4 linked regions of the Homo sapiens genome follow. The protein of the gene in region 3 interacts with the protein of the main gene of each other region in a pairwise test. Each region holds a gene or a part of one and is shown on either strand. Other genes may lie near its edges.

Region 1 (7,638 bases), on a different chromosome or scaffold from region 3:
AAGAAGTAGAATTTGGCTTTTTATAAACAGCTTCCTTTGTCTTTTTAGTCAATTTGTTATAGGCTGTTACCGTAAGAAATAAGCATTCGGTGAAAAGCCACTTGGCTTCAGCTCATACTATATGGCTTACATGTTTTCCTACCCAAAGCCTTTGCTGACACCCTCACCTCCACTCCTACACCCACCCAATCCCCTAGTTAGGTTAGGTGCCTTCTTATGTGCACAGCACTTCTCCTGTCCCAGCACTAACCACACTAGATTACTCTGGCAGCTTGTTTGTCTTTCTTGCTATACCATAAGTGTGTGAGGGCAGGGACTTGGTAGTTGGAATTGGATATTTGGGGCCTGAATGAATGAAAGAAATCTCTTTCTGATCTGAGTAGGTTGCTCATTTTGTAAATTGTAGCCTTATTAGTTAGGCTATTAAGCAAATTTCCTACATTTCTGTTGGAAAGAGAAAAGTTGCTACAATTTTTTATTTGTTTTGTTTTCTAATCTACCATCCAGGCCAACCCATGGCCAGCACAGACATGATGGAATAAAGACTGAGCACTACAAAACAGATCTTCATTCTCCAAGAGGACAAGCGTCGGATAGTATAAACCCCATGTCTAGGGTGCTAAGCCCCCTGAGTCCTCAAATCAGCCCTTGCAGCTCCACCAGGTCTTTGACTTCCTACTCTCTATGTAAAACTCATTCTTTGCCTTCAGCGCTAGATACAAATGAAGCCAATTTTTCTGACACTATGTCTGAGAGTATGAATGACCAAGAAGAGTTTATATCTTCGGTATGGAAACTTTCTGATCTTAGTAATTTGTTAGTTTTTTAAGTTTGCTTTGATTTTTTATTTTAAGGGTGAAGAAGGTGATTTTTTTTTCCTTACTGATTCTTTTATCATAAGTACTCTTCATTATTCTTAGGTATCCCTGTCATACAGTTTTTGCTTGTGAAGACACTTTCGGCCAAGACTACTTTTCAAAATGTTCTGAAATATGTTATACGTATTCATTTGTCTTTAACCCTTATTGGAAATTCCCTTCTTGCCCTTTTCAGTGATGCTCAATTTTCTTCTGGAATGGTTAGTTCAAGAACTGTCTCTGGATGCCAAGATAGTCCTGAGGCACAGGCAGTGAAGGAGGAAAAGAGGAACTGCTGGAAAGGAGAAAGGGAGTGTGGAGGGGGAGGAAGGCTGTGCCTCTGATGTGTGCAGAGCATGGCTTGGGGGTCACAGATGGTGGCCCTCAGGGCAGAATGTGCCTTGGACACCATGCCGGTCCCTTGCTCCTTCCATTGCTGGGCAGGCTGCACCATCTTTTTGCCTTCTGCACCAAAGCACTTGCCATGGGCCCTTCATTTCCTGTCACCAGCTGTGGCCATATAGATGTGAAAGTGCAGTATTTCTGACTTATTAATGTGCTACCAAGTCCATGGAAAGGTTTTCTTTTATTTTTCAAAATAAGTCCTCACTTCACTTTCTTCCTAAGTTTAGCAGCAAAATTTTTTTGGCACCAGAACTTTCCCTGGCCTGAACTGATGTGTTAGTATGTATAGACTTTCTCTATTCCACTTAGTGTGAGTATCCATGTGTTTTGCTTCAGAAATATCAGTGTGTTTGGTGATGGGATGTTCCCTCAGACTCCACTGGGGTAATACAGTTGATCCTCATTATTCACAGATTTTGTATTTGTGAATTTGTCTACTCCCTAAACTTTATCTGTAACTCCCAAATCAGTATGCGCAGCACTTCCACAGTAATTCGTGGACATATGCAGAGTGACAAAAAATTTGAGTGACCGACTTGCACAATCCCAGCCAAGGTCGAAGTAGGCAGCACTCTGCCTTGTTGCCCCTGCTTATGCGGAGGTGACCATAGGGTGGAGATGGACGGGACAGCGCAGTGTAGGGAAAGAAGCTCAGCTCCATGCCAGCTGGATAGAGTCTGAATCCCAGCTTCAGCACCAGTTAGTGGGGCAGCCTCAGGAGAGTTACCACTTCTGAACCTCATGTCTCTCATGTGAAATAAAAAATACAGAATCTACCAGAATGATTTGTTCTAGGATTTAGGATTATGCTCTCTGTGTGGGGTATGTGTGTATGTGTGTGTGTGTGTATTTGTTGTATGTGTGTATTTTCCCTGGGCCAAAAATTCTGTGTTTGCTAATTCAGTGTTTTGGGTGACTTTATAGAACACAACTACTGCTATTGTGAATGAGTATTGACTGCATATGGCATATGTTCTATGTTACCTTTCTAAAATCAGAATTCTGAAATATCACTAGCCTCAAGGGTTTCAGATAAGGGACTGTGGACTGAAAATTTGGAGGAGAAAAAATAATTGATTTTAGCTGGCATCTAATTTATTTTTGTTAAATTTTTGTGCTTTAAAATAAAAGTGACATACTTAGGTTTTTAAAGTGAGTTTGAAATAATAGGCATTAACTATGGAAGCATATATAAGTCTAAATTGAAACATTCTTCAGACCAATAACTAATATATGATACTTTACATTGTTACAATTTGGGTCAGAAACGGAGAGATCTGTGTTAATTTTTGCAGAACTTACTGATTTTTGTTCTTTTATTGCTCTTGTCATTAGGATGAAAACCAAAAAAGTATCTTCAGAGGAAAAAAATCACCTTTTAATATTGCTAGTTAGAAAATGTCATGAACAGTGTATCTTAGAAATATAATATTCTACTTATTTACACATGTCAAAATTTGTGTCTCTTCCAGTGTTCCTTGCCTGTATCTCCCCTTGGTTCAATAGCTACCAGATTTTTGGAAGAGGAGGAACTGAGGTCTCATCACATTCTAGAGCGCTTGGATGCCCATATTGAAGAACTAAAAAGAGAGAGTGAAAAGACAGTGAGACAATTCACAGCCTTAAAGTAGCCTCTTAAAAAAATCACTATCTTGGAAATAAAAATAAACACCAAAGAGTTACTGTCATCTGAAGTAGCAGCTCTTTAAAAACATGAAGAGATAAAATTATAAAAATGATACATCTAAAGCAGTGGTGAAGAAAGCTGAAAAACTGATACTTTTGATAGGCATTTTCTCTGCACTGGTTTGTTTAAAGGACTTCTTCCAGCAATAAGTTGAAAGAATAAACCACTTTGCTAGACTTTTTTCTCATACGAATATTTATTATCATAAAGTGATACTTACCTTGCTGACTTAAATGTGAATAGCTATGTACTAATTGAAATAAGGATTTTATGATACATGTTGAAAATAAAGTAACTGCAGGAACTTTCTTTAGGGGAAATGTGTAGAAGCATGGATTTAGGGGTCAAACATACCTGGATCGATAGACTGGTTTTGCCACTTACCAGCCAACGGGGCTTGTTATTTACTGGGCTGGTAGCCCCTCCTAGCCAAGGGGCTGGTAGTGTGTAAAGTCAGGCTGGTAGTGAATAAGGGGGGGGTGTGCTAAAGAACCTTATCAAGCAGTCCTCTCTTGCTCAACACTCATGCAGAGGAGAGAGGCAGGGAGGGCAAGGGACTGGCTGTCATGCACGGTGCCCATGGAATATCCATTGGAAATAAATGTTCATCGTCTGCACTGCTGAGGACAAGTTTAGATGGGAGACAAAGATCTGGATGTTGATGTGCCGCAGGCATTTGAAACGATGGGAGTTGATAAGATCCACCAGGGAGGCTGTGGAGAGAGAGAGGAGCAGGAGGCTGGGTTTGGGGCCCTGAAAGATGCCAGCATCTGAGGATCACAGGAAATAGATCTAGCAAAGGAACTAGAATGTGCAGTTACAGATGAGAAAGGTCAGTGTAGTGTACTTGCCAGCTCAAGGGTGTGGCCTCTGTGAACCCTCTTTCTGTAGTGGATCTTTCCCATCAGCGTAAAACATCCTGTTATTTCCCCTTTTTAAATAAAACCTCAGTTTTTTTTAATGCCTCTCTTTTACTGCTCTGTATGTTTGCTTCCCTTCACCCAAACACTTCTGGAAAGAGTTGTCTGCAGTGACTCTTTCCAGTTCCTCACCCCGCCCCACCGTAGTTCTCTTCCTAACCCTCTCCAACACCACTTCCATCCCCAGACTGCTTTCTTGCTCTTGAGTTCACCAGTGACCTAATCAGTGTCTGAGCATCATTCAGCACAGTTGGACTCTCTCTTGGCTTCTGTGACCTGGAACTTCTGGTTTCCTCTCTACCTCATCCTCCACTCCATCTCATGGCTTTTCCTCTTCTAACCTCTAAGTCAGAGGGCCCCCTAGAGCTCTGTCATGGGTTTTCTCCCTCAGCATTCTCTTCCCTAGAAGTTTCCATTCCATTCTCAAGCTCTTAATACCACCTATAGGCCAGTGACCCTTACATTTATTACTAATCTTGACCTCTCCCCAGAGCTGCTGTCTTAGATACCTAGCTGCTTATGCGATGTCTTCACTTGGATATCTGACAAACATCTTGTTTCCAAGAGAGAACTCTTTATTCTCCCTCTTGCTAAGATTCCATATCAGGACATAGCATTATGTTTGCCAGTTCCTAGGAGTTACTTATAATTCCTTCCTTACCCACATCCGCATATCCAGTCATTTGGGAGGTCCTGTCATTTCTTCCCCCAGAATCTTATCTCAGACCCAACCGTTTCCCTCCTGCACTTCTACCACCTGATCCAGACTACTTCTCTCTCACCCTGATTCTGGCAGTAGCCTCCTAACTGATAGTACTCACACCAGTAATTCAGGGAGCTTCTGGAGTTATCCTTTAGAAATGTAAATGAAACAGTGTCACCACTGCTTCCCTTCAGACTCTTCCAAGGCTTCTCTTTTTTTTTTTATTGAGACAGAGTCTCACTCTGTCGCCCAAGCTGCAGTACAGTGGCAGGATCTCGGCTCTCTGCAACCTCCACCTCCCGGGCTCAAGTGATTCTCCTGCCTTAGCTTCCCGAGTAGCTGGGATTACAGGCGCATGCCACCAGGCCCAGCTAATTTTTGTATTTTTAGTAGGAACAGGGTTTCACCATGTTGGTCAGGCTGATCTCGAACTCCTGACCTCAAGTGATCCACCCGCCTGAGCTTCCCAAAGTGCTGGGTTATAAGCGTGAGCCACTGCACCCAGCCCCAAGGCTTCTTACTGCACTCAGAATAAAATCCAAATGAATTAGTATAGCCTACAGAGTGTCAATAATCTGGGCCTAATCACCCATTGCATCATCCTTTACTGTGCTCCACCCATGCTGGCGTCCTTTCTGTTTATTGAGTGCAGCAAGCTTTAACCTGTTCGGGTCTTTCATTTGCAGTTTACCCTGAATATTCCCTTTCTCTTACCTCACCTTTGATTGGCGTTTTCCCCCTTGCAGACCTGCACTCTGGCATCCTCTCCTGAGCAAGCCTTCTTTGATTGCTGCCTCCCAAACCTGTTTCTCCCCATTTCTCTAGCTCATTGGCCTGTGTTACTTGCTTCATAGTGCTCACTACTATCTGAAATCATTTCATTACTTGATTTATGTTTGTACTGTCTATTTCTGTCTTTAGAATTAAAACTCCTTGAGGGCAAGGACTTTGCTTCTCTGGTTCATGGTGGGATCCTCATCACCCAGCACAAGCCCAACACTTAGGAGAGGCTCAGCTAGTTTGAACCAATGGAAAATGCCATTCCTGAGGTGCACCACATCGTTTCTTTTGTGTTGGTGTGCATGCTGTCCTTCAGTTTGTCTCCTCTTCCCACACCCTGTCATGTGCTCCTAAAACTCCCCCTTTACTTGGCTACTTTATCTGGCTTGGCAAAGCTTTCCCATATCCCCTGACCCATGTCAGGGAACGTTTCTCCTCATTGCTGTCATGGCACCCTGTGTGTGGCTCTGACCAGACTTTGCTATCCGCTTTGATTTCTGTCTTTCAGGGGCTAAGTCCTGCCTACATCCTCAGTCAGCATGCTGCCTAACACATAACAGATCCTAAGCAAATATTGGGTGGATGAAAATCACTACCATTCAAGGCTTCATTGTATTTATCAGTAAAACTGAAATAATATCTAATGGGGTCGAGAAGATTTACTGAAAATATATATTTGAAAGGGCTTTGCAGTTTTAAGTACTGTACCTATGTGCATTGCTGTTACATTCAGGAGATTTCTGAGTTTTAGACAGTCCCAAGCTTCAGCTTAAAATCTGTAGACTGCAGCCCGTTTCTGAAACGTTTGTACTACGTGTTGACTAGGAGGAACAATGACAGACTCTGTAGTCACCGGAAATACTTAAGGAATCATGAGGTACTATGTATTTCCTTAAATTATACTGTTTTTTAAAGCTGAAGTATCTAATAGTTAATGGGTTGTCCAAATTTGTCAGAACATTTGACTGTAATTTAATGTCTCACCATTTTTCAAAAAGATATATTAATACCAAATATTAAAATGTGTCAAGACTAAATCTGAGTTAGTGTCTTAACACACATTTTCCAAAATCTGTCCGTGATCAGGGTACCCAAATGAGATGAAAAGATTAGGGATTTGTAGTCTACATCTGGTGTTTACAGATAATGTTTTATTGGGCAAGTCATCTCATTCTTCTTGTCCTGGATTCCCATGAATTTTCATCTGGATTCCTACGCAGATTTTAGCTGAAGAGGGCAAAGTTGACTTCCCACTGTGGGCTGGACATTACCTTCCCTTGCAGACTCATTTGATCTCAACAAGTGTAGAAAAAATACTACAACACTCTGTTTCTGTGACATCTGCTTAAACCCAAACAATTCTTACCTTCTCTCTCTTACATACACATAACACCTGGTAAACTGTGGGTGATGATTTTCTGTTTGCAAAACACTCGAGTCCAGTACCTAAAAGTTGCAGATAAGAAAGATAATTATAAAATAAGCTCTATGGCATGAGAACATACGTTAAGCAAACAGTTGTCATGAACAGCACTGAAATGTAGAAAAAGTTAGAAATGTGTCAGCTTGTCCCAAAACAGTTTGAAATAGTATAAATGCATCAAAAAGTAACAAACAGAATCGGGGCAGAGGGAAAATGAGGGCTGTAAACATTGATTCACTAATGAATCTAGTTGTCCAGTCCAGTTGCTAGAGGAAGGCAGCCAAGTTACCTCTGAGCTTCAGAGGGGGAAAAGCAGAGGAGAAAACATTTACCTAAAAGTTTTATGGTGCCCATAAGATAAAAAAAAAAAAAAATCATAGACTTAAGAAAAGCACAGATTTTTTTTGTGTGTTTGAATAAGCGTTTTGTAAAGTATGTGAGTATCCAGAAGAGAAGTCCAACATTTTCATAACTGGTAATAATAATCTGCACAGCTCCCCCCACAGTATGCTTCACTGTGGGTTGATGGCATAAGGCTGACATCCAAATTCAGAGGAAACTGTTCTGAGAGGGCCACAAACATGATTGCGTAAAGCTCTCATGGCCTGAAAAGGGAAAATTTAGAGGGATGATAGACTGCTTTAAACCAATCTTTTGTAAAAGCTATTTCTCCGCAGTGCAATTTTGATAATTCAGACATACAATTCACATCTTTTTTTTTTTCCCTCTCTGTGAGGAACTAGAATTTGGGAATTTTATGTTGCCCATTAAGACCAGGTTCAATTATTTGACAATCATCCAGTCAGAAGAACTTTTGCACTCCTCTTACAAAAAGAACGTAAGGCAGTAGTTGATAGGGGAAG
Region 2 (7,901 bases), on a different chromosome or scaffold from region 3:
CTTCATGTCTAAAACACCAAAAGCAATGGCAACAAAAGCCAAAATTGACAAATGGGATCTAATTAAACTAAAGAGCTTCTGCACAGCAAAAGAAACTACCATCAGGGTGAACAGGCAACCTACAAAATTAGAGAAAATTTTCGCAACCTTCTCATCTGACAAAGGGCTAATATCCAGAATCTACAATGAACTCAAACAAATTTACAAAAAAAAAACAACCCCATCAAAAAGTGGGCAAAGGATATGAACACACACTTCTCAAAAGAAGACATTTACGCAGCCAAAAAACACATGAAAAAATGCTTATCATCACTGGCCATCAGAGATATGCAAATCAAAACCACAATGAGATACCATCTCACACCAGTTAGAATGGCGATCATTAAAAAATCAGGAAACAACAGGTGCTGGAGAGGATGTGGAGAAATAGGAACACTTTTACACTGTTGGTGGGACTGTAAACTAGTTCAACCATTGGGGAAGTCAGTGTGGCGATTCCTCAGGGATCTAGAACTAGAAATACCATTTGACCCAGCCATCCCATTACTGGGTATATACCCAAAGGATTATAAATCATGCTGCTATAAAGATACATGCACACGTATGTTTATTGCGGCACTATTCACAATAGCAAAGACTTGGAACCAACCCAAATGTCCAACAACGATAGACTGGATTAAGAAAATGTGGCATATATACACCATGGAATACTATGCAGCCATTAAAAATGATGAGTTCATGTCCTTTGTAGGGACATGGATGAAACTAGAAACCATCATTCTCAGCAAACTGTCGCAAGGACAAAAAACCAAACACTGCATGTTCTCACTCATAGGTGGGAATTGAACAATGAGAACACATGGACACAGGAAGGGGAACATCACAATCCGGGGCCTGTTGTGGGGTGGGGGGAGGGGGGAGGGATAGCATTAGGAGATATACCTAATGTTAAATGACGAGTTAATGGGTGCAGCACACCAACATGGCACATGTATACATATGTAACAAACCTGCACATTGTGTACATGTACCCTAAAACTTAAAGTATAATAATAATAAAAAAATTAAAAAAAAAAAGGAAAGAAGGAGAAAGAACTGATGTTAATTTTCCCAAGCTTATTGATTCTTATCAACTCACATCAGTTTCTGACATTCAGAGATGTCTGTGATCAAAGCTCATATGAAGAGAATTCTAAATGTTGCATGGCAAAGAACCCAAGAACTCCTGGCCCAAACCGCATGCAGCTCCCCACTCGTCTCTGCGTCCTCCTCACCTCCTTCACCTGCTGCTGTCTCAACTTGACCCCTTCCATCTGGCCCCTGACCCCTGGACTCTGTGGCCTCCCTGAGCGGCCAGCACAGTCACGTCTAAGTCGACCTGACCATCTGCCTGCTGGGTGCTGCTGGCTGCTGCTGGCTGCTGCTGGCGCTGGCTGCCCTGCACATTCTCCATGCCCTCCTTTCCATGGCACCAGTTTCTGCCTCTCCTTTGGGTTTCTTTCCCCTTGCCCCCTGGCAAGCTGGGTTTTGAAGTCATTTGGGATGGAAGGTGGGCCATTTGAAGAGCTGTAGGGTCAGGCCCTCATTCTGCCAGTCCATTTGGGAAAAATCTTCCATGTCACTAAGCTCTTGTAACAATAGCTACAAAAGTTGCTTGTTAGTTGGGAACTGAAATCTGCCTGTATAGAGATTTGCCCTCAGATGGATTTCCAGGTAAAGACAGACCCCCATCCCCATTGAGCAGGGAAGGAGCGGCCCCTCCCTGGCAGTGCTGTGTCCTCTGATGGCGTGCAGCACTTCAGAGTTACTCTGTTAGGCAGCATGGCTCTCCCTTTGCATGGGAGTGAGTGTCCCACAACCAGCACTGTCTCTGCCTGCGCCTTTCCTCCCAGCCCCATGGCCGTGTGCTGAGTGCACCGGCCCTGTTCTGCCTTTGGACTGAGGAGGCGTGTTCCTCTTCCTATGTCTCCCTGACTGTAGGAGCGATCTCTCTTTGAGTCGGCATGGAAGAAGGAGAAGGACATCGTTTCCAAGGAGATAGAGAAGCTCCGCACGTCCATCCAGACCCTGTGCAAGAGCGCACTTCCCCTGGGGAAGATCATGGACTACATCCAGGAAGACGTGGATGCCATGCAGAATGAGCTGCAGATGTGGCACAGCGAGAACAGGCAGCACGCCGAGGCCCTGCAGCAGGAGCAGAGGTGGGGGGTAGTAATGGGGAGGGGGCCCTGCAGCAGGAGCAGAGGTGGGGGGTAGTAATGGGGAGGGGGCCCTGCAGCAGGAGCAGAGGTGGGGGGTAGTAATGGGGAGGGGGCCCTGCAGCAGGAGCAGAGGTGAGGGGTAGTAATGGGGAGGGGGCCCTGCAGCAGGAGCAGAGGTGAGGGGTAGTAATGGGGAGGGGGCCCTGCAGCAGGAGCAGAGGTGGGGTGTAGTAATGGGGAGGGGGCCCTGCAGCAGGAGCTGAGGTGGGGTGTAGTAATGGGGAGGGGGCCCTGCAGCAGGAGCAGAGGTGAGGGGAAGTAATGGGGAGGGGGCCCTGCAGCAGGAGCAGAGGTGAGGGGAAGTAATGGGGAGGGGGGCCTGCAGCAGGAGCAGAGGTGAGGGGAAGTAATGGGGAGGGGGCCCTGCAGCAGGAGCAGAGGTGAGGGGAAGATAATGGGGAGGGGCCCTGCAGCAGGAGAGAGGTGGGGGGGAGCAGGGGGATAATGGGAGGAGGCCTGCAGCAGGAGCAGAGGTTAAGGGTAGCAGAGGCAGGGAGTAATGGGGAGGGGGCCCTGCAGCAGGAGCACAGGTAGGGGATAGCGGAGTGGGGGGAGTAATGGGGGAGGAGGCCCTGCAGCAGGAACAGGTTGGGGTGGGGCAGGAGGGTAATGGGGAGGGGGCCCTGCAGCAGGAGCAGAGGTAGGGGTGTAGCGGAGTGGGGCAGTAATGGGGAAGAGGCCCTGCGGCAGGAACATAGGTGGGGGGTAGTGGAGGGGGGATCCCCAAAGTCAATGGGGACTTTGCTGCATACCTCCTTGTCCCAGAGGTTGTTCTGTATGTAATTTAAGGACTTCAAGATTATCATTGAAGAAATATTAACTGCTGCTTTTATAAATCTCATGTTTGACTTCACTTTTGGTTGTAGCAGGGGTTGTGAAAATAAGAAATAAATATTATCCTTTTCTTTGGATGAAACGAATAATTTACTTCTGTTGTCTTTCAATGTCTTAATTAAGAAGCCAACACACAATGAGATGAGAGAGTGATGAGCCGCTGGTTTTGTTCTCCCTCAGGATCACAGACTGTGCCGTGGAGCCCTTAAAGGCTGAGCTCGCGGAGCTGGAGCAGCTGATCAAAGACCAGCAAGACAAGATCTGTGCTGTGAAGGCCAACATCCTCAAGAATGAAGAAAAAATCCAGAAAATGGTATATAGTATCAATTTGACTTCGAGAAGGTGAACACTCAAAAGTTTCAGAGATGAAAAGTCACCTCAGTTTAAAAGCAAAAAGGAAGATAGAAAATCATTACTCTTTTAAGTTCCAGTTTGCTAAGAAAATGAACAGTTTACAATGTTATTATCCAGCTAATTTTCAGAGCTTTAAAACTGTAAGCATGTTAAGTGTATTAAAAAAACCATGTTTTCTTACCTCCTTCCAGATGGAATACTGGCTAGTTATAAATAGCGCTTCCAAACACCTCTGTGAAAAGTTTTTTTGAAAGCCTGTTCTTTGTGTTTCTGCTGTAACCTGTTTAGTTCTGTACCAGAACTCTCTAGCAGGTAAGTGGTGTGGGCATACCAAGGGAACAGTAGTCCTTTATTTTGGTTTAGTGGAAAGACTTTCAGAGGTCAGTGCCGAATGAAGGATGACTGTGTACTTTTTGATAGGCACTTGATAAGTAGAATGAGGCCTGAAAATGAATACATTATATTTTTAGTTAATTTCCAATGGAAAGGGCTAACCTCAGCCTGTCTCCATATCAGGTACCTATCAACTGGATTGTTTTCATTTTTGTTTTTTGACCTCTTTGTAATTGCATGTACTTCTCTATGTAATTTTCCTCTTGATCTCTACTATCGTTTGCTTGTGTTTCTAGTCCTTAAAGTTCATAAATTTAAAAAGGAGATTTCAGGATGGCCTTTATGGACGTTGTCTGGACATACATCCTCACTTTCTTCCGCAGTTTACCCTGGTTTTCCTCAGACAGAGGCTAGCGCAGCCCCCCGGAGTCCTTGTTCTCCTTAAGAGGGTCTCGCTCTGCAAAGCATTGGCGCCATGGCTTTTCCTTTGCATGGGTGTGCATACCGAGAGACAGGCAGCTTAGGAAAAACAACATAAGGAAGACTTAAAAGGATGCACTGATTTACGACGTTTTTTGATGTTAGCCATTTTTTTGGAAATTGTTTTTTAAAGCAAAAGTTTTTTAAAAACATGGTTTATAGTTTTTCACTTACATATACTATTGTAAATACTTAGCAGAGTCTTAAGTTACTGTATAAAACATTTCATTGTGTTTGAAGACATACTTATGGGTCTTGAGGTCTGGGTCCTAATACTTTTAAATAGTGTATTTATTATGTAAACTGAGGAGTGCCATTTAAAGTGTGAGGATTGCCTGAAAAGGTTTTGTTTCTTTCTTTTTTTTTTTTTTTTGAGATGGAGTCTTACTCTGTCGCCCAGGCTGGAGTGCAGTGGCGCAATCTCGGCTCACTGCAACCACCGCCTCCCGAGTTCAAGTGATTCTCCTGCCTCAGCCTCCTGAGTAACTGGGACTACAGGCGCACGCCACCATGCCCAGCTAATTTTTGTATTTTCAGTAGAGATGGGGTTTCACCGTGTTGACCAGGATGGTCTCCACCTCCTGACCTCGTGATCCGCCTGCCTCGGCCTCCCAAAGTGCTGGGATTACAGGCATGAGCCACTGCACCCGGCCAGGTTTTGTTTCTTTAAGGATTAGCACAAATGGCACCGTTGGGTTTTTCTTCATACAATTTCCAAAATAAATTCTGTACTCAGGTTGTTATATGATTTTCTGAGCTGAATAAGTTCAGGAGCAGATTATTAAGATCTGCCATTCTGAAACGCTGGTCTTTTTCTCCTTCCTATAGTGCACCATAAAATTCTGTTTGATCAGATTATATTACATACATTTTGGGGGAGTGGAGGGACATGAGTTAAGTAGCCCTTCATGTATTTATAATCTCTTTTCTACTGAATCAAATGACTTAGCCATGACCCTGAATGGACCTTGTTTTACTTCAAGTTGAGATGTCTGCCTTTTATGAATTTGTATATGTGAATAGAGTTTGGGGGTTGCCAAAAATTGCATACATTGTATGTAAGTAAAATTTTTTATGAAGTAGTCTGTCAAATTGTATCATAAAGTTTATTTTTCTTTTATACGTAAATCATTAAAAATAATCACATATTTTTTCCATAAGTGTATGGATTGTGCAGTTCGATTCACACATGGAAAAATCATAAGCATTTGGATTTTTTATTTTCAAATGTGTGTGTTTTGTTTTTCTCGTGAGGAAAGTTCAGGGAAATACATCTTTTCATTCATATTGTGACACATCTCTTTTCAGTATGAATTGAAGTTTTATAAGATAGGTAAGCATTTATCAGAAATTGTAAGATCATTTGTGAAGTTTTAGAAGGTCTCTACACGTGATTGTTACTGTATCTTATCCTACACACTAGATCCTGATCTTAATTTGAGAAATTTAATTTTTCTCTTATTTTGAGACAATACACAAATGGGATTATTAAGTATTTTTCTATACTTTGGTTTATAAGTTTTCAGGGAGTACTGGAGTCATACTTCAGGAATTTGAATTTAAAAGTTGAGCTGATGATAATTTATATTCAAAGGAAATGCATAATAGACCTTTGGAAGAAATAGTTCAAGACTAAAATGCAGCTTTCTACTTTGATATTCATCCTTATTTTTCTTTTTAATAATCAACTTTTAAAAACTGAAATCTATGAAGAAAAATGATGTCACTTGGTGACATGAAGTGCTACTTAGGATTTGGGTGATATGGAATTCTAGTCAGTGTATTAACGAGTGCCCCCGAACTATTCCGGTGCTAGTCTTCTGAGCTGCCCTGGACTGATGGGGTTTATCTTCTGTTGGTCGATGTGCACAGTGTCATGGCACACGAGTAAGAGAAAAGATGGCCAGGGCCTTTGAGCAGCTTTGGGATCAGTAGCCAGTGTGAGCCAGCAGCAAGCAGGATGAGCAGCCTGTTTGAGCTTCCGCAGGAACCTGCTTCAGAAGGAGGCCACGCCCAAGCAGGATCAAGGCTCAGCATGTCACCGTCAGGGAAGACACTAAACACCCAGACCTGGACTTGGCTCCCCACTCTGGACTCTTCTTTCCACACCCGAAAGTGCAGAGAGTAAATAACCTTGTTCATGGCGCCTCTACGTAGACCACTGTGGGCTCCTCTGAGGGGCTCTCCAGCAAAGACTAATGTAGCAAAGCAGAAGTAAGAAAAATTCTAAGTCAAGCATGAGCCAGCCTAAGTCGGAGGAGAAGGAATAGCTGTTCTCAGTGATTCTCAAATGTAACTACTTGCTACATTTGGGCTCTGAGTTTAACTCTATCATAGGATACACTTTATTAATAAAAATGTTTTATATTTTCCTAAAAGGTGTTTCAATAAGTATGGTTTATGCAAGCTTTACATTGGGGCATTAGTGAAGCCCCCTAGTCAGAACCCCTTTTTGATTATGTGTATTTTCATAAAGGGATATTGGGAGGGACTTTGGTTTCTTTTAAATTCAGCAAGAGAAATTTAAATGTCTTTTAAAGCTGTAGAACTTGACCGGGTGTGGTGGCTCACGCCTGTAATCCCAGCACTTTGGGAGGCCAAGGCAGGCAGATCACCTGAGGTCAGGAGTTCGAGACCAGCCTGGCCAACATGGTGAAACCCTGTCTCTGCTAAAAATAAAAAAAATTAGCCAGGCGTGGTGGTGGGTGCCTGTAATCCCAGCTACTTGGGAGGCTGAGGCAGAAGAATTGCTTGAACCAGGGAGGCAGAGGTTGCAGTGAGCCGAGATTGTGCCACTGTACTCCAGCCTGTGTAAAAGAGTGAGACTCTGTCTCAAAAAAAAAAAAAACAAAAACAAAAACTATAAAACTTGTTTTGGCCAGCCGTGGTGGCTCATGCCTGTAATCCCAGTATTTTGGGAGGCCGAGACGTGAGACTCACTTGAGCCCAGGAGTTCGCGACCAGCCCTGGCAACATAGTGAGTGAGACCCCATCAAAATAAACAAAAAAGCCGGGCATGGTGGTGTGTGCCAGTAGTCCCGGTTACTCAGGAGGCTGAGATGGAAGGATCACTTGAGCCTAGGAGGTTGAGGCTGCAGTGAGTCATAGTCATGCCACTGCATGCCAGGCTGGGTGACAGAGCAAGACCCACTCTAAAATAATAATAATAATAATAATAATAATAATAATAATAATAATACATAAAACTTGTTTTTAAATCCATATATAGAGCTGAATTCCAAATTGGTTATCAGTTTCTTAAACCAAGCAAATTGGTCTTTCTGTTAAGAAAATGGAGTTCAAAAGAAAGTTAAATTACACATATTACAAGAAGGTTGTACTCTGGTCAGTCAGGGCAGAATCACATCCTTGTAAATGAATGCAGTCAAATGTGTGTGTCCAGATTGGTGGGCGTGTGGTGTTGGCGAAAGCACCATAGAAACCTCTGGGTGTCTTCTGATGAAGCCGGGCACCCAGAGCCATGTGATTCCAGGAGATGCTTGTGGAACAAGGCTGGGCTGGCCCTGCCCCACTGGGCACACCGATGGTAGGGTCTGATTTATGTTCTCCAGCAGCCAGGCATGACACTTTGTGGATAGTGCTATGTGTAAGTTTTTAAAGAAAATTATCCTTACTGTC
Region 3 (7,901 bases):
ATTTAACATTATGAATTGATAAGAGAAAAATGAAGAAAGTATAGGGCTTTTTTGAAGAATATAACATATTAAACTTCATTTCAGCTCACATGAGCACAAGTACTAGAGAGGACAGCAAATGAGCACCATTCCTGTGTGTGAAATGTACATGCTTATATAGACAACTTTTTCTTAATTCTAGGAAAACAGACAGTTGCTAAATGAAAGAATTAAATTAGAAGGTATTATTACTCGAGTAGAGACTTATCTCAATGAGAATCTGAGAAAACGCTTGGACCAAGTAGAACAGGTGTGTATGTGTTTTTTTTTTTTTTTTTAAGGGCTCCTTGGTGGCCATGACCTATTGCAAGTGGTTATATCAGAGGCTCTGATTGAAAGCATGGGCTTTGGGGACAGAAAGCTTAGTGTCTTGTGGGCCTTGGGTTGGAATTCTGCCACCTAGTGTGTGATTTTGGACAAGTCACTATTTCTAAGCCTCAGTTTCTTGTGTGAATTAAGCATTATCATACTTGTTTTATATAATTGCTATCCTGACACATTCTAAGTACTTTGTTAATATTTTTTCAGTGGTGGTTAGATGCTTAGAAATTTTCTAGTAATTGTGTCTTTTTTTTCTTCCCTTTAATGGATACTTCTAAGTATTTGTAATTATATGATGTATTTATATTTTTTTGTTTTCTTGAATGTTTATTCAGACAATAGCCATAGAAAATGTTGGCAGTCATAACATTTGAAACTAATGGAATTTGTATTTTTTGTTACAGGAACTTAATGAGCTGAGAGAGACAGAAGGGGGTACTGTTCTCACAGCCACAACATCAGAACTTGAAGCCATCAATAAAAGAGTAAAAGACACTATGGCACGATCAGAAGGTGAATTTTTATGTAGTAAAATTTTGTTTATATGCATGTTTTATAAAATTGTTTACTACAGAATGAAATGTCCAAATAGGCAGAAGCATATGCTAATGATTTTTTGTTTTCCATTATAAACAATGTATAGCAAATGGAATTTAGGAAGTTGACTATAAATAGTAACTTTTGTTTTACTGAAATGTTTATGACAATTTTGAGACCATAAATGATTCATTTTGTTGATAAAATATGAAATACCTGACGAAAGTTTCTCATCACTTAGTTGTTAGAAAATAACTATAGTTTATAAGCATTAACATTGAATAATGAAAATTATATATTTGAGTGACTCATATATACTTCTAATTTTGTACTGACTTAACATGGTTCATAAATTTTCACAGAAAATTTTAAACACAAAACCTAAAACCTATTTTGGTAGGTTTGATCATAAAAATCTATACTCAACATATAACACTGGCTTTATAGGTATTATAGCCTAATTTTGTTTCCCCCCATCTTAGATTTGGACAATTCCATTGATAAAACAGAAGCTGGAATTAAGGAGCTTCAGAAGAGTATGGAGCGCTGGAAAAATATGGAAAAAGAACATATGGATGCTATAAATCATGATACTAAAGAACTGGAAAAGATGACAAATCGGCAAGGCATGCTATTGAAGAAGAAAGAAGAGTGTATGAAGAAAATTCGAGAACTTGGATCACTTCCCCAGGAAGCATTTGAAAAGTACCAGACACTGAGCCTCAAACAGGTTGGTTTTAAATTTGAAGTCTTGTTACAAATTGCTCAGTATATAAATTTATTTATATGAATACATATTTTCTCTTTATAGTTGTTTCGAAAACTTGAGCAGTGCAACACAGAATTAAAGAAGTACAGCCATGTTAACAAAAAGGCTTTGGATCAGTTTGTAAATTTCTCCGAGCAGAAAGAAAAGTTAATAAAGCGTCAAGAAGAGTTAGATAGGGGTTACAAATCAATCATGGAACTGATGAATGTACTTGAACTTCGGAAATATGAAGCTATTCAGTTAACTTTCAAACAGGTATGTTTCGCTTTGTAGTTAAAACATACACACAGAGGACAAAAGCTTCCAGCTCTTTTCAGTTTGTAAAGATTTTAAAGCTGTTTTCCTCATTACCAGGTGAATCTAATACATGTGAACAAACCTAGCATATAGGTTTACAGTAACTTGAATGTTTTACACAGCCCTTAGAAGGATCTAGTCTGTTATCCTTGTTCTTAAGATTAAAAAATAATTGGTTGCTTTTAAATATTTTACTTAAGTGTTATATATAATTCTAAGCAAAATTTATATTTCAATCTGCTTTTGTTTTAAGGTATCTAAGAACTTCAGTGAAGTATTCCAGAAGTTAGTACCTGGTGGCAAAGCTACTTTGGTGATGAAGAAAGGAGATGTGGAGGGCAGTCAGTCTCAAGATGAAGGAGAAGGGAGTGGTGAGAGTGAGAGGGGTTCTGGCTCACAAAGCAGTGTCCCATCAGTTGACCAGTTTACTGGAGTTGGAATTAGGGTAAAATACCTTTATATTCCATTTTCCTCAGAGCATTACCATAATAGAATTTATAGTATCTTTTGCAAATCTGATTGGTGCATTATATGCAAGTTACTTTTGAAAGATGGTGGTGATTCTGCCCTTTAGGATATTAACTCATAATATGTTTATTTTTAGGTGTCATTTACAGGAAAACAAGGTGAAATGAGAGAAATGCAACAGCTTTCAGGTGGACAGAAATCCTTGGTAGCCCTTGCTCTGATTTTTGCCATTCAGAAATGTGACCCGGCTCCATTTTACTTGTTTGATGAAATTGACCAGGCTCTGGATGCTCAGCACAGAAAGGCTGTGTCAGGTACAGTTTCAGTACAGTTTTGGTTTTGTATTTAACAATAAGCTGGTAATATTTGCTGATGTATATATGAAAAAATCAAACTCAGGCAGTTTTGAATTTTAGTAAGAGTAAAGATAGTTGCTTTTTAAATTTTCAGATCTGCTGAAAAGAAATTTGTTAAAGCACAATTTTCTTTTTACAGATATGATTATGGAACTTGCTGTACATGCTCAGTTTATTACAACTACTTTTAGGCCTGAACTGCTTGAGTCAGCTGACAAATTCTATGGTGTAAAGTTCAGAAATAAGGTAATTTTATTTTACATTGAGTTTAAGTTTGTATTTATTCAATTATATTTGTTGAATTCTGATTTTATGTTACTTAAATAGTGAAAGAAAACTTAGAAAGTCTTTGCTTATCTGATGTCTTTGTAAAGAAAGAACTTTTCCTTCAAATAACTATGAAGTTTAGCAGTATTTTATGGCGTTGCATTGGTTTTATTTTCATTGGCATTAATAAACAATATCTTTCTGTCCAGTCTATTCAATGCTTCTGTAATGCACAGTCTTTAACAATTATATATGTTCATTTGTATAGACTGCATAGCTCTTCCTGGGTGTCTTCCCAACCTTAAAATTCTTGATGAAATAGCAAAGTAATAGAAAGTGAACAAAAAGGTAGTTTAGATGTTTAGGCATGATATTTATTTCTTCAGAGCATTAAAATACATATTTTTTAAATCTATGCATTGAACAAACACCACTGTAAATAAAGGTTTTATAAGTCAGTGCTTCAGAATTATTTTCCTTCATATGTAAAATATAGGTGATAGGCCGGGCGCAATGGCTCATGCCTGTAATCCCAGCACTTTGGGAGGCCAAGGCAGGTAGATAACCAGGTCAGGAGTTTGAGACCAACGTGGCCAGTATGGTGAAACCCCCGTCTCTACTAAAAATACAAAAATTAGCTGGGCATGCTGGCGTGCACCTGTCGTCCCAGCTACTTGGGAGTCTGAGGCAGAATAATTGCTTGAACCTGGGAGGCGGAGGTAGCAGTGAGCCAAGATGGTGCCACTGCACTCCAGCCTGGGCAACAGAGCAAGACTCCATCTCAAAAAAAAAAAAAAAAAAAAAAACTAAAAATTAAAAAATGTAGTTAAATGTAGTTGATAGGCTGTATATATTTACCCTATACAATGTAAACACTGATGTAATTAACAGATTTTTGTTTTTAACATTTATTCTTCAGGTTAGTCATATTGATGTGATCACAGCAGAGATGGCCAAAGACTTTGTAGAAGATGATACCACACATGGTTAATTGGAAAATACTACCTACTGGTTTGGGAGATGTATATAGTAATATGATTCTCATACCCAGGAACTGTAAATTTAAACCTAAATATTTGGCCAATAGTTTTCAGACTTAAAGCATCATAGTCCTTTTATATTTGTCTTTGTATTTTATAAGATACTCTGTAATGTCATGTTTGTACTGATAGTTTAAGAATTTAATTTCCTGTACAACTTTTTGTAAAATGTTCTGCTCCTATTTTAAATGTTTTGAAACATGCTAAATATTCTTTCCTAATTATTTTATCACTTATACTACCTTTTTTATAGCTTCAATTAAATAATCGGTTTTATGACTAATATAGTGTTTTATGTGGCTTTTCATTTGTCATAGTCTCTTCCAGTGAGAACACTAATCAGATTGGATGTAAGGCCTCATTTTAACTTAATCACCTCTTTAAAAGACCTGTCTCCAAATACAGTTAAATTTGAGGTATTGAGGGTTAGGACTTCAACATGTGAGTTTGGGAAGGGAAGCACAAAATCAGCCCCTACCATGGTATATTTATCATTGATACATTACTATCAACTAAGCTCAAGATTTTATTCAGATTTGACTAGTTTTTCCACTAAGGCCCTTTTTCTTTTCTAGGATCCCACAGAGGATACATTACATTTACTTACATCTCCTCTAGTCTGTGACAATTTCTCTGTCATTGTTTATCATATCTTGACAATTTTGAATAATATTCACATATTTTGTAGAATGTCCCTCAAATTAGGTTTGTCTAATATTTTTCTCATGGTTAGATTGGAGCTAATACCACAGAAGCGAAGTATTCTCATTACCTCATATAATAGTACATATTATTAACATGTTTTATCACTGATGTTTACCTTGATCACCTACCCAACATTGTACTTGCCAGGTTTCTTTGTTGTGAAGTTACATTTTTTTCCCTTTCCATACTACTCTTTTCTTTGAAAGTAGGTCTTTAAGCACTGGGGGTCTCCTGTGACCCTGGAAAACTACCTCAATAGTCCTCGTAGCTTTTTGTAGATTCTTTGAGATTTTCTACATAGACAGTCATGTCATTTGCAAGAAAGAGGCAGTTTTATTTCTTCCTTTTCAAATATTTACCTTTAATTTCTTTTTCTTGATTTCCCCTGGCCTGAGTTTATACTGGTTATCTGCAGGAGAATTTGTTAGGAGCTACTCTTCCATCATTGGAAACCAGAAATACCTAAAGAGATACTTTTAAAATAAAGAAATAGTAATGGGACTTTAAATTGAATTTAAAAATGTGAGTTTACTTTGGGTTTTCATTTTGACTGGCTGAATCTTTAAATGTTCGGTGTATTATTTATACTTTGTAGCTTTGCTATAACATAACTGATCTATAATAGAGAATTTGGTATATGTTCTATCTATGACTACATTCAAAGGGTTACGTAACTATAATATCTTTCTAATATTTCTACCATTTTTCTTACACATTTACCCAAGAATTTTTCTCAAACAACTACCTAAGAATATTCATCATGAATGCTTGGTGTATAGTTTACGATTTGTAGAGTTGCTCTGATATGACCAACCCCTTATAATACAGAATTTGGTGTAAGGTAAGTTCCAGGATTCAATTCAAGGGATGTTACAAACATAACATCATTCTAGAACTTCTTAATATTGTTCTTAAGCATTTCCCCAAGGATATTAGTATAATGAAATGCCAGTAAATTTATAACAATAAAGCATCTAAATAATGAAACAAAATTTTTGTAAAAGCCTATATTCTTTGCGATATCTTAGTCATGAATTAATTCTAATGAGACTGAATAGAAAAATGTGACAATCCTGAGCATGCTTAACCCAGAAACTTAGAGGAAGGACAGACATTTACCCAAGGAGTTAGCCAGTGATTCATAAGAAAATCTATGCTTCTCTTTGGCTGGATAGTCCTTTCCTCAGAGTAGTACTGATTCTTCCACTTTGAGATTTTGTTAATACTGTTACAAATACATTACATTCACCATAGTGGAATTGAAGAACATATATTTTAAGAGATGGTGGGGGGGGTCTCATCCCATCACCCACGCTGGAGTGCGGTGGCAGGATCACAGCTCACTGCAACCTTGAACTCCTGGGCTCAGGTGATCTTCTGCTTTGGCCTGCCAATATTAATATTTTGGGGCATTTCCTTCAAATCTTCATAAAAAGTTTTGTGGTTTATGTTTATTCTAGGTGTATAATTTTATATCTTAGATTTTTAATTTAGTAATAATATAAAATATTCCTGTTTTAATGCTTTGGAAACAAGATTTTAATAGTCATATACTATTCTGTCAAGTAGAAGTAGCATAATTTACTTAAATATCCCACTGGAGGCTTAGATCGTTTTCTTTTGGCTAAAGTACCAAAAATGAATTAAAAAACAGATCAACATTTTTATACATAAAACTCCCAACATTTAGGATTATTTTCCCAGCGTAGATTCCTAGAAGTCAGAGTGTGAATATTTGTAAGGATTTTTGTATACTCTTTATGCTCTTTTTGAAAAAAATGTAAAATATGAAATGGTTAGTATGTAGGTTAAGGATTTGTCTACTCAAAATTAGTGAAATAGTAATTTTAGAAAATGATGTAATTTATAGAAATAATTTTACTGTGAATAATATAATCAGTAGAAAAGGGAGAAATAGAAAGGGAGGATTTCTTTTTTAAGAGTAAGCAATAGCCGGTCGGGCACGGTGGTTCACGCCTGTAATCCCAGCACTTTGGGAGGCCAAGGTGGGTGGATCACAAGGTCAGGAGATCGAGACCATCCTGGCTAACCTGGTGAAATCCCGTCTCCACTAAAAATACAAAAGATTCTCCGGGCGTGGTGGTGGGCGTCTGTAGTCCCAGCTACTGTGGAGGCTGAGGCAGGAGAATGGCGGTAGCCCGGGAGGCAGAGCTTGCAGTGAGCCTAGATCGTGCCACTGCCCTCCAGCCTGGGCGACAGAGCGAGACTCCATCTCAAAAAAAAAAAAAAAAGCAATAGCAAACGGGTCTTTGGAAATATTTAGTTAATTCTTAAAAGGTGTTTCTCTTTTAACAACTATCTAGGCCAGGCGCGGTGGCTCGGTGCCTGTAATCACAGCACTTTGGGAAGCTGAGGCAGGCGGATCACTTAAGGTCAAGAGTTCAAGACCAGCCTGGCCAACATGGTGAAACCCTGTTTCTACTAAAAATTAGCCGGGTGAGGTGATGCGGGCCTATAGTCCCAGCTGCTTGGGAGGCTGAGGCAGGAGAATCATTTGAATCTGGGCGGTGGAGGTTGCAGTGAGCTGAGATCGCACCACTGCACTCCAGCCTGGGAGACACAGCGAGACTCCGTCAAAAAAAAAAAAAAACAAAAAAAAAACCAAAACTCTCTTAATAAAAGGACTAGTACTTTGATTCAGCTTCCCACAAAGGGAGAATACCAGTGTTTAAGTAAAGTGAACAGTATTCAGATTTCACTATCACCCAGCAAATGGTCTTACACAGGATACAGCTTCCAGTTGTTGGGTGCTTGCCACAGAGGTGCAGAGATTATGTTCTGTCTTAAAGATTTAAGAAATCATTTTCTTAAAAATTCTGCTAGGTATAGTGGTTCATACCTGTAATACCAACATTTTTAGAAGCTGGAGCAGGATGATCATTTGAGCCAGGAGTTTGAGACCAGCCTGTGCAATGTAGTGAGACCCGATTTCTACAAAAAATTTAAAAACTAGCTGGGTTTGGTGGCTACACCTGTAGTCCCAGCTACTTGGGAGGCTGAGGTGGAAGGGGTCACGAGCCTGGGAGGTTGAGGCTACAATGCGCCATGATCATGCCACTGCACTCCAGCCTGGCAACAGAG
Region 4 (7,901 bases), on a different chromosome or scaffold from region 3:
AATTTTTTGGTGTTTGTTTCTCAATACCCACCCTCAAATGTAACCACTTTTCTGATTTCTATTAGAAAATAGATTAATTTTCCCTGATTTTGGACTTCCTATAACTGGAATAATATGGTATATATTTTTTGGTATCTGGCTTCTTTTGTTCAATACAACATATTTGTGATTAATCCATGCTGTTGTGTAGGTCAATCATCTTTATTGCTGAGTAGTATTCCATTGCAAGGTCATACCATAATTTGCTTATCCATTCTTCTGTTGGTGGAAATTGCAGGTGTTACCAGATTTGAGCTCCTATAAACAAGGCTGCTCTGGACATTCTTGTACAGGTCTTTTGGTGGAAATATACTTTCCTTTTCATTTGGAACTTCTGGTCATAGAATAGGTGTATATTTAACTTTATTAGGAGCTAACAGACAGCTCTTCAAAGTGGCTATACCATTTTGCATTCTCATAAAAGCAGTGTATGAGGGTTCTGGTTGCTTAACTTCCTCCACAAATATAGGATAATCAGTCATTTTGATTTTAGTGATTCTAATGGGTGTGAAAAGTGCTTTGGGGTCATAAGATTAGCCCCCATTAGAAGTTATCTATTATTATTATCACCAGATCACGACTCAAACATTTTTAATAAAGGGCACCTGAGTTCCTTCTTTATTGTAATCATGCCTCAATCTTCTTCTTGTCCTAACCCCTCCAAAAACCACATCATAACCCCCAATATTGGCCATACATCTATTTAAGTATTATGTGTAAATATATGTTGGTAAATATGTTAAAGTATTGGCTTTATAAAGAGGACCCAGTAGAGACATCATCAATGCCCCCCACAATACCCAGCGAGTGCTTGGAAAATGGCTAGGTTCGTATTTTTCTGCAGCTCCCTAGAATATAACAGTCTACCCTACTTTGTTCTGGGCTCTGTCCCCACATCTTAGGAGTTGCATTCTCTTTCGGGCTGCACAGCCCTATGGGACGTCAAACCTTGCCTTTCTTGACAACTGATGGGAGGTCCCTACCATCAGCACCTTCTCCAGTCTATCAACCTGGGTTGGACGTCCCTACCTAGACACAGCTTCTCTTGGGGACGCTGTGGAGGAAATCGGGGTCTCGGGTGTGGCTATATACTCAGGGACAGAAGCTAGACGCGCTCCGCAGCCTGAGGTGGGCCAGGCACCTGCTGGGCTCGGGGTGGCAGAGACAGCTGTGCGGTCCCAGCTGTTCCTGAGCGCACCGCTGAGGGACGCACTCCCTTCTACAACGGCTGCACCCCAAGTCCTCCTCCCATTCCTATATTTTTCTCCATCCCCTGCCCACGCTTAATTAGTTATCTCCTCCAGACCCCTCCCCACTGGCCTCCTCCCTTGCACACGCGAGCTGGGCAGGGAAGAGAGCGCCCGGCTCAGTACTGCGCGCGCCCTGCGGCTGTCCGGGGCCGCGCGGTGGCCAAAGCACAGCGCGGGAGAGTCTGCGATGTCAGAGAACGGCTCCTTCGCCAACTGCTGCGAGGCGGGCGGGTGGGCAGTGCGCCCGGGCTGGTCGGGGGCTGGCAGCGCGCGGCCCTCCAGGACCCCTCGACCTCCCTGGGTGGCTCCAGCGCTGTCCGCGGTGCTCATCGTCACCACCGCCGTGGACGTCGTGGGCAACCTCCTGGTGATCCTCTCCGTGCTCAGGAACCGCAAGCTCCGGAACGCAGGTGAGCACCATTCCTGATGCTGGGTGCTGGCATCGGGCCCTTCCTTGTCTTCTGATCTTGTCCCTGACCCCGGGATATGCGCTGCCTTTTCCCTCCTCAGCCCGGGCTCCCCTTTCCCTTCACTCTAACCTATTCCTTAAGTTTGACTCTGCACTCAAAAGTTAGGGTGAGTTTTGCCCCTCCGAAGTGCGGCTGCCCAGGACGCGCTTGGCACAGAGGGAATTGCGGAAAGTTTTACTGGCGCGCTTTTTGGCCGGGCGCCGGCGCTGTGGGAACCCACGCTGCTGGATGCCATCGCTACCCCGTCGCGCTCCAATGCGTGTCTTTCCAGAGGTGCCCACATCAGGCCACAGAAATCTCACCACCTGTACTTGACATCCCACTTCCTTCCTTGCCAAGCACTGTAGCTTTATGTAGTAGTCGCTTAGAAAATCCTTGCTGAAAAAATGAGTTAATCAATGGAAGCATTTCAGTAGGTTTTGTGTCAAAAACTTATCTCCAGGTCATCTGAAGACCCAATTCCAGTTGACGGAGAGTAAATGCAGAAATTGCAGATTCTGCTTGGACTGAACTAAATTGCTTTGAAATATTGTGGTCTTTTCCGAAGACTGGGAATTCCTGGGATTAACTGTGAAAATTAAAGCAATGATTTGGCTAAATCGTGTTGTAATCCTGAAAATATTTTTCCTATTTCAATCCACTCTCATTTCAATATTCCCCTAGTCAGGTCTTCAAAGAAACAAAACCAGAGTGGGGGGCAGTATCTGAACTCTAGCCCTCACAGGTCATGGGGCATGATGACCACTTCAGCTTAGGAAGGAGCTCAGTCACCTGTTTGTTAATTTTGCAGTTTCTTCAAGTTGGGCCTTGGGAGCAAATTCAAATATTAGAGTGAATTAAAATGGAAAGATAGCAGCAGTAAAACAACCATATAGCTTAAAAATGCTTTTCTAAGGAGTCAGACCATTTTTAGCAAATAGTAATATGTATTTGGTGTGGCCTGTGACTCTAGAAATTTTTTTTTTTTGAGATGGAGTCTCTCACTCTGTCACCCAGGCTGGAGTGCAGTGGCATGGTCTAGGCTCACTGCAACCTCTGCCTCCCAGGTTCAAGGGATTCTCTTGCCTCAGCCTCCCGAGTAGCTGGGATTACAGGCGCTCGCCACTACACCCAGGTAATTTTTTATATTTTTGGTAGACACAGTATTTCACCATGTTGGCCAGGCTGGTCTCGAACTCCTGACCTCAAGTGATCCACCCGCCTCGGCCTCCCAAAGTGCTGGAATTACAGGCATGAGCCACTGCGCCCGGCCAACTCTAGGATTTTTAGCTAAAAAAACAAACAAGAAACTCCTCCAACTGTGAGTATCCAGCCATCATATGGGAAACATAACATTATTAAGAAGAAGTAAACTTTCTAACTCACTTCAGTAGTGGTGGCTGTTTTCTGGAATACATTGTTCAAAATATTGTGTCCTTTGAAGAAAAGCTTATATATTAGGGAAAAACAGGTTATGATTAGAAAACTGCATTTAATATTTTTGACACATTGTCCCTTGCAGCCATCATAAACATTCATTTCCAGCACAGGGAAGCAAAAGGGAGACAACTCCTGGCTCTATGGGGGAGAAATGGGTCCTCCTGGTTCTGACATTGGCCCCTTCTGTCCCTGACTTATTGAGTATTTAGAGCAGGTCTGTCAGGCCATGGCTCCCTGCTCAGTAATTTGGATTGCCCACCATGAGAAAGGTGGTTGAGGGAAGTAGGAGTTGCTTCCTTTTGCTGGAAGGAGAAAAGCACCCCTCCCCTCCTGCATCCTACAGAGGGCTGGCCTTTTCTGTGATCCTGGCAGGGTCTGCAGAAACCTAACCAGTTTAAGAGCATCACTGGGGAGGGTCATGAGCATGTTAAATTGCTGGCATATCCTCTGTTCTATCTTTCCTACCTCCTGATGTGTCCGCTACAGCCCAGCACCCGAACAAAAAAAAATAATAATAACACTATATCTAAATGACATCAATTCCTGCCACTGCTGCAGTCTTGCAATTTAACCAGTTCTTATGTGACCTCTGGCTTTATTGGTGACAGTCACAAACAATTGTAGTACTGACTTGAACTAAATGATCTCAGCAGAGTGAGATTTCAAAAGGCGCTTAAAACCTACAGCTCTTTGAATAGTTAGCACACATTCTACTCTTAATCAGGCCTTGTCTTACTGAAGAGTTTGGATTTAATTTAAGAAACGCTTCTTCAGACCTTTCTGTACTTAAGTCTGGCTCCTTAAATCATTGGTATTAAAAAATTAAGTCTGTAACAATGAGAATACATATATTTCCAATAACCAAGATACATAGCCCATATTGAGGTCACAGCATGTTTCCCAGGAGACACCAGTATCCTTTACTTGCCTATCACAAACCCAGTTCCTCTATGGAGCAGATCTGTATCATTCCTAACAGTGCCGCTCCTGATGGCAGGGTGAGTGGTTAGATTAATTGTCTTTTTTTTTTCAGGGATATCCTATCTGTAGTGTCTGTTGCTGCATGTGGTGGGTTGACTTCAGAGATAGCACCAGAGAAAGGCAGACAGGGAGGAGTGGAGGCAAGGTGGGAGGTAGGGTCAGGGCACCGACCCAACTTAAAAGGTAAGGCCAAGTGTGTTCACTCTTTGCTACATTCTCAGAGTCTTGCACAGCCCATGGCACTGGGTTGGCACCTCACGCCTGTCAGATTGTGCTTCCCAGGGACTTGCCACACTTTTGACTCTACTGAGAGCCGTTGAGAACTTTCCCTCCTGGGCTCACCACTGCTGCCCTGACCCTTGAGCTACACCTCGCTAATATTTATCTCTTGCATTTTTGAGCTCTTCCTTTCTCTCTTCTGGAAACTTCCTCCATGTTACACACACACACGATACACAAAGTCTCCTGTTTTAAAAGAACAAAAGACTCTTTTCTTGACTTCATGTCCTCCTAACTTCATCACTACCTCTCTCCCTCCCTTTTCAGCCAGACATTTTAATGTAGTTGTGGACATCTACTGGTTCTACCCCATTGCTTCCCGTCCTTCCTCAGTCCTCTGGGCGCCATTCTCTGGAAATGTTCCTCTGTGCTGTGTGTGACACTGAGGGCCACTCCCTCTGTGGGACCTTTCATTCCCTCGGCTAACCTGGTGCTAGTTTTTGGATCTCCTTTTTCTCTTCATCTCCCGGATACCTGTGCCCTGAAAGTCATCTTTGGTTCCTCCTACTCTTTCATTCCACATGTCCTAATGATTTTACCTTCCACTATTTCTCAATTTCTCCCTTTCCTGCCTCCTTATTCTTACTGCCCCACTTCATGCCTTCATCATCTCTTGAGCAAACACTATCCATAGTGCTTGAGAGCTTTTCCTGCTCCCTCCCCCAGCCACTGTTACCACTGCCAAGAGTTTCCCTGTCTTCAGTGGCTGCCCTCCATCTCCAGAACAGTGTCCAACTCCAGAGCACAGCTCCCACGGCCATTTGCGGCTGGCCTAGCCCACCTAACTTACAGCCTCATTGCCCTCCTCTCACCAGTGTCACAGTGAGCTGCTGCTACTTCCCAAAGGGTCTGCACTCCCTGATGTACTTTCTCTACCTCTTCTGCCCAGTCAACAGCTGCTCCTCCTTCAACTCCTTCCCCAACTCCCCTGAAGGATTATCAATGTTGATTATTAATACCATGAAGGGGATAGTAAGTGTCTCCCTTGTTGGGCTTCTAAGATACCTGTGCCCTCCCCAGTACAGCATCCCCCTCACTGTACTATTGTTCTTTGTCTCTCCCCGCTGGACCGTGTACCTGCTGAGAGCAGACACTTTCATTCAGTTTCTGTCCACAGAGCCAGACACATAGTAAGAACAGAACACATCTCTGATTAAATTGGAAATGGATAAGACACCAGGTAGTGGGGGAAAATTAATTGATTTTGCTCCATGAGCTGGGATAGACCTCAGTTACAGTACTCAGCACTGCATAAGTAATCAATACAGGTTTTCATGAAACTGAACTGCTTTGAGAACAGCCCAAAGTATATCTCATGTTAAGCTGACTATTGGCACCTTCTGCATGAAGGCATGCTTGTTCTGTGATTCTCCTGTGTGAGTAAAGTTGCTCAGCAGTTTCCAGCCATGCCATGGTTGTACCCTACTGATTCCTCTTGGGGAGTTTGCCCCTGATATGCTTTGGCTGTGTCCCTACCCATGTCTCATCTTGAATTCCCACATGTTGTGGGAGGGACCTGGTGGGAGGTAATTGAATCATGAGAGCAAGTCTTTCCCATGCTGTTCTCACAATAGTGAATAAGTCTCATGAGATCTGATGGAAAAAGAGAAACTCCCCTGCACAAGCTCTCTCTCTTTGCCTGCTGCCAGCCACATAAGACATGACTTGCTCTTCCTTGCCTTCCACCATGATTGGGAGGCTTCCCCAGCCATGTAGAACTGTAAGCCCAATGAAACCTTTCTTTTGTAAGTTGTACAGCCTTGGGTATGTCTTTTGTTGTTGTTGTTTTTTGTGAGACAGAGTTTCACTCTTGTTGCCCAGGCTGGAGTGCAATGGCATGATCTCGGCTTACTGCAACCTCTCCTGCCTCAGCCTCCTGAGTAGCTGGGATTACAGGCATGAGCCACCACACCTGGCTAATTTTTTTTTTTTCTGAGACAGAGTCTTGCTGTCGCCCAGGCTGGAGTGCAGTAGCGCAATCTCGGCTCACTGCAAGCTCCGCCCCCTGGGGTTCATGCCATTCTCTTGCCTCAGCCTCCCGAGTAGCTGGGACTACAGGCGACCGCCACCTCGCCCGGCTAATTTTTTGTATTTTTAGTAGAGACAGGGTTTCACCGTGTTAGCCAGGATGGTCTCGATCTCCTGACCTCGTGATCCGCCCGCCTTGGCCTCCCAAAGTGCTGGGATTACAGGCGTGAGCCACCGCGCCCGGCCTAATTTTGTATTTTTTAGTAGAGATGGTGTTTCTCCATGTTGGTCAGGCTGGTCTCAAACTCCTGACCTCAGGTGATCCACCCACCTCAGCCTCCCAAAGTGCTGGGATGACAGGTGTGAGCCACTGTGCCCGGCCTTGGGTATGTCTTTATCAGCAGCGTGAAAACAGACTAATACAGCCCCTTTCTTGGTCTGGCCCGAGGTGGCCACTTTTAAGCTGCCTGTAATATGCTGGCCATATAAGAGAGCTGAGAGAACCATGTCCTCACTGTAACACCCAAGTACTCTCCACTATCAGAGAGGAAGTCATAACAACACCAGTTATTCCTGGCTCCATAGGCACAGCCACCTTAATTTTCCAAGTAGCAGTCAGAAGCTGTGGTCTGACAATGGATTTTTGTGCTGCAAATGGGTTAAAGAGGCTGTCTGGGAGGTTTAGTGAGTGCACGAATTGGCATTTCTGGGGTACGTTGATGATTGGTAAAGCAGAAATATATGAACTATTTGATGTTAAGATTGCCTAGGAAAACATGGAGGATTTGCTTGCTGAACACACAGATCTTTGTCCAAGGTCACTCTGTCTATGCTGGCAAAGCTGCCCCTCCTCCAGGCCCCCAGTGATGCTAAGAATTCACACCATCTCCTATCCAGAACCAGTAACTGCCTGGGAGGTTCCTGATGGGAATATTCTGCCTATGCAGGTGCTTTGCTTCCCCGGTTAGATTAGAAAACAGTCTGCACTGTGGCCCCTGTTCCTTGCCTCCTCTCTTCCAACTTGTTGACTGAGACAGCAAATGATGCTTAATAAGCAGCATGGTTCTGAACAAAGGCTCTGGAAGGCCTAGAGTGAAATGCTTAATAGGCCCACAGCCCCTACCCTCCAAGTTATAGAATGAAGTGGAGCCCACTCCATCAAGGCTTCTATCCTACCACCGACCACTCATTGAGATGTCACTTGGCATCAGGTGTCTTTTGACTTGCTCAGCCTGCAATGTTTAGAGTGCCATTATCAGCCCAAGACCAAACTGGGTAACCTTGGACTCCTTCCTGAATGTTTCTTAAGCTGTCCAACTTTGCATTTCAGCTGTGAATACCTTATTGCCTCTTCACTGAGCAAAAATGAACAGTTTTTAAATCCCATAATTATGTCTTTAGCTGAATAATCAGGAAAGCTAATAATCCTCTTTAATTCCTCCCATGTAACTTTCAGTAGCTCAAGGGTATAAAGACTTTAATGTTTGCCTGTCTT

Evidence for each region.
Region 1: the proteins of SMC3 (region 3) and CEP63 interact in a two-hybrid assay, tested with the Homo sapiens proteins (2 studies listed by BioGRID and IntAct).
Region 2: the proteins of SMC3 (region 3) and TRAF3IP1 interact in a two-hybrid assay, tested with the Homo sapiens proteins (2 studies listed by BioGRID and IntAct).
Region 4: the proteins of SMC3 (region 3) and MTNR1B interact in a two-hybrid assay, tested with the Homo sapiens proteins (one large-scale study listed by BioGRID and IntAct).

Annotation. Positions count from the first base shown.
Region 1 is NC_000003.12:134,558,643-134,566,280, forward strand, and holds the end of CEP63 (centrosomal protein of 63 kDa), read left to right. Parts: intron 1-507; coding exon 508-787; intron 788-2,734; coding exon 2,735-2,893; 3' UTR 2,894-6,389; downstream 6,390-7,638. UniProt on the Homo sapiens protein: Required for normal spindle assembly.
Region 2 is NC_000002.12:238,395,479-238,403,379, forward strand, and holds the end of TRAF3IP1 (TRAF3-interacting protein 1), read left to right. Parts: intron 1-1,980; coding exon 1,981-2,201; intron 2,202-3,275; coding exon 3,276-3,441; 3' UTR 3,442-5,419; downstream 5,420-7,901.
Region 3 is NC_000010.11:110,600,258-110,608,158, forward strand, and holds the end of SMC3 (structural maintenance of chromosomes protein 3), read left to right. Parts: intron 1-181; coding exon 182-289; intron 290-764; coding exon 765-873; intron 874-1,379; coding exon 1,380-1,627; intron 1,628-1,708; coding exon 1,709-1,921; intron 1,922-2,216; coding exon 2,217-2,408; intron 2,409-2,567; coding exon 2,568-2,745; intron 2,746-2,926; coding exon 2,927-3,033; intron 3,034-3,973; coding exon 3,974-4,045; 3' UTR 4,046-5,791; downstream 5,792-7,901. UniProt on the Homo sapiens protein: Central component of cohesin, a complex required for chromosome cohesion during the cell cycle. The cohesin complex may form a large proteinaceous ring within which sister chromatids can be trapped.
Region 4 is NC_000011.10:92,968,250-92,976,150, forward strand, and holds the start of MTNR1B (melatonin receptor type 1B), read left to right. Parts: upstream 1-1,401; 5' UTR 1,402-1,476; coding exon 1,477-1,699; intron 1,700-7,901.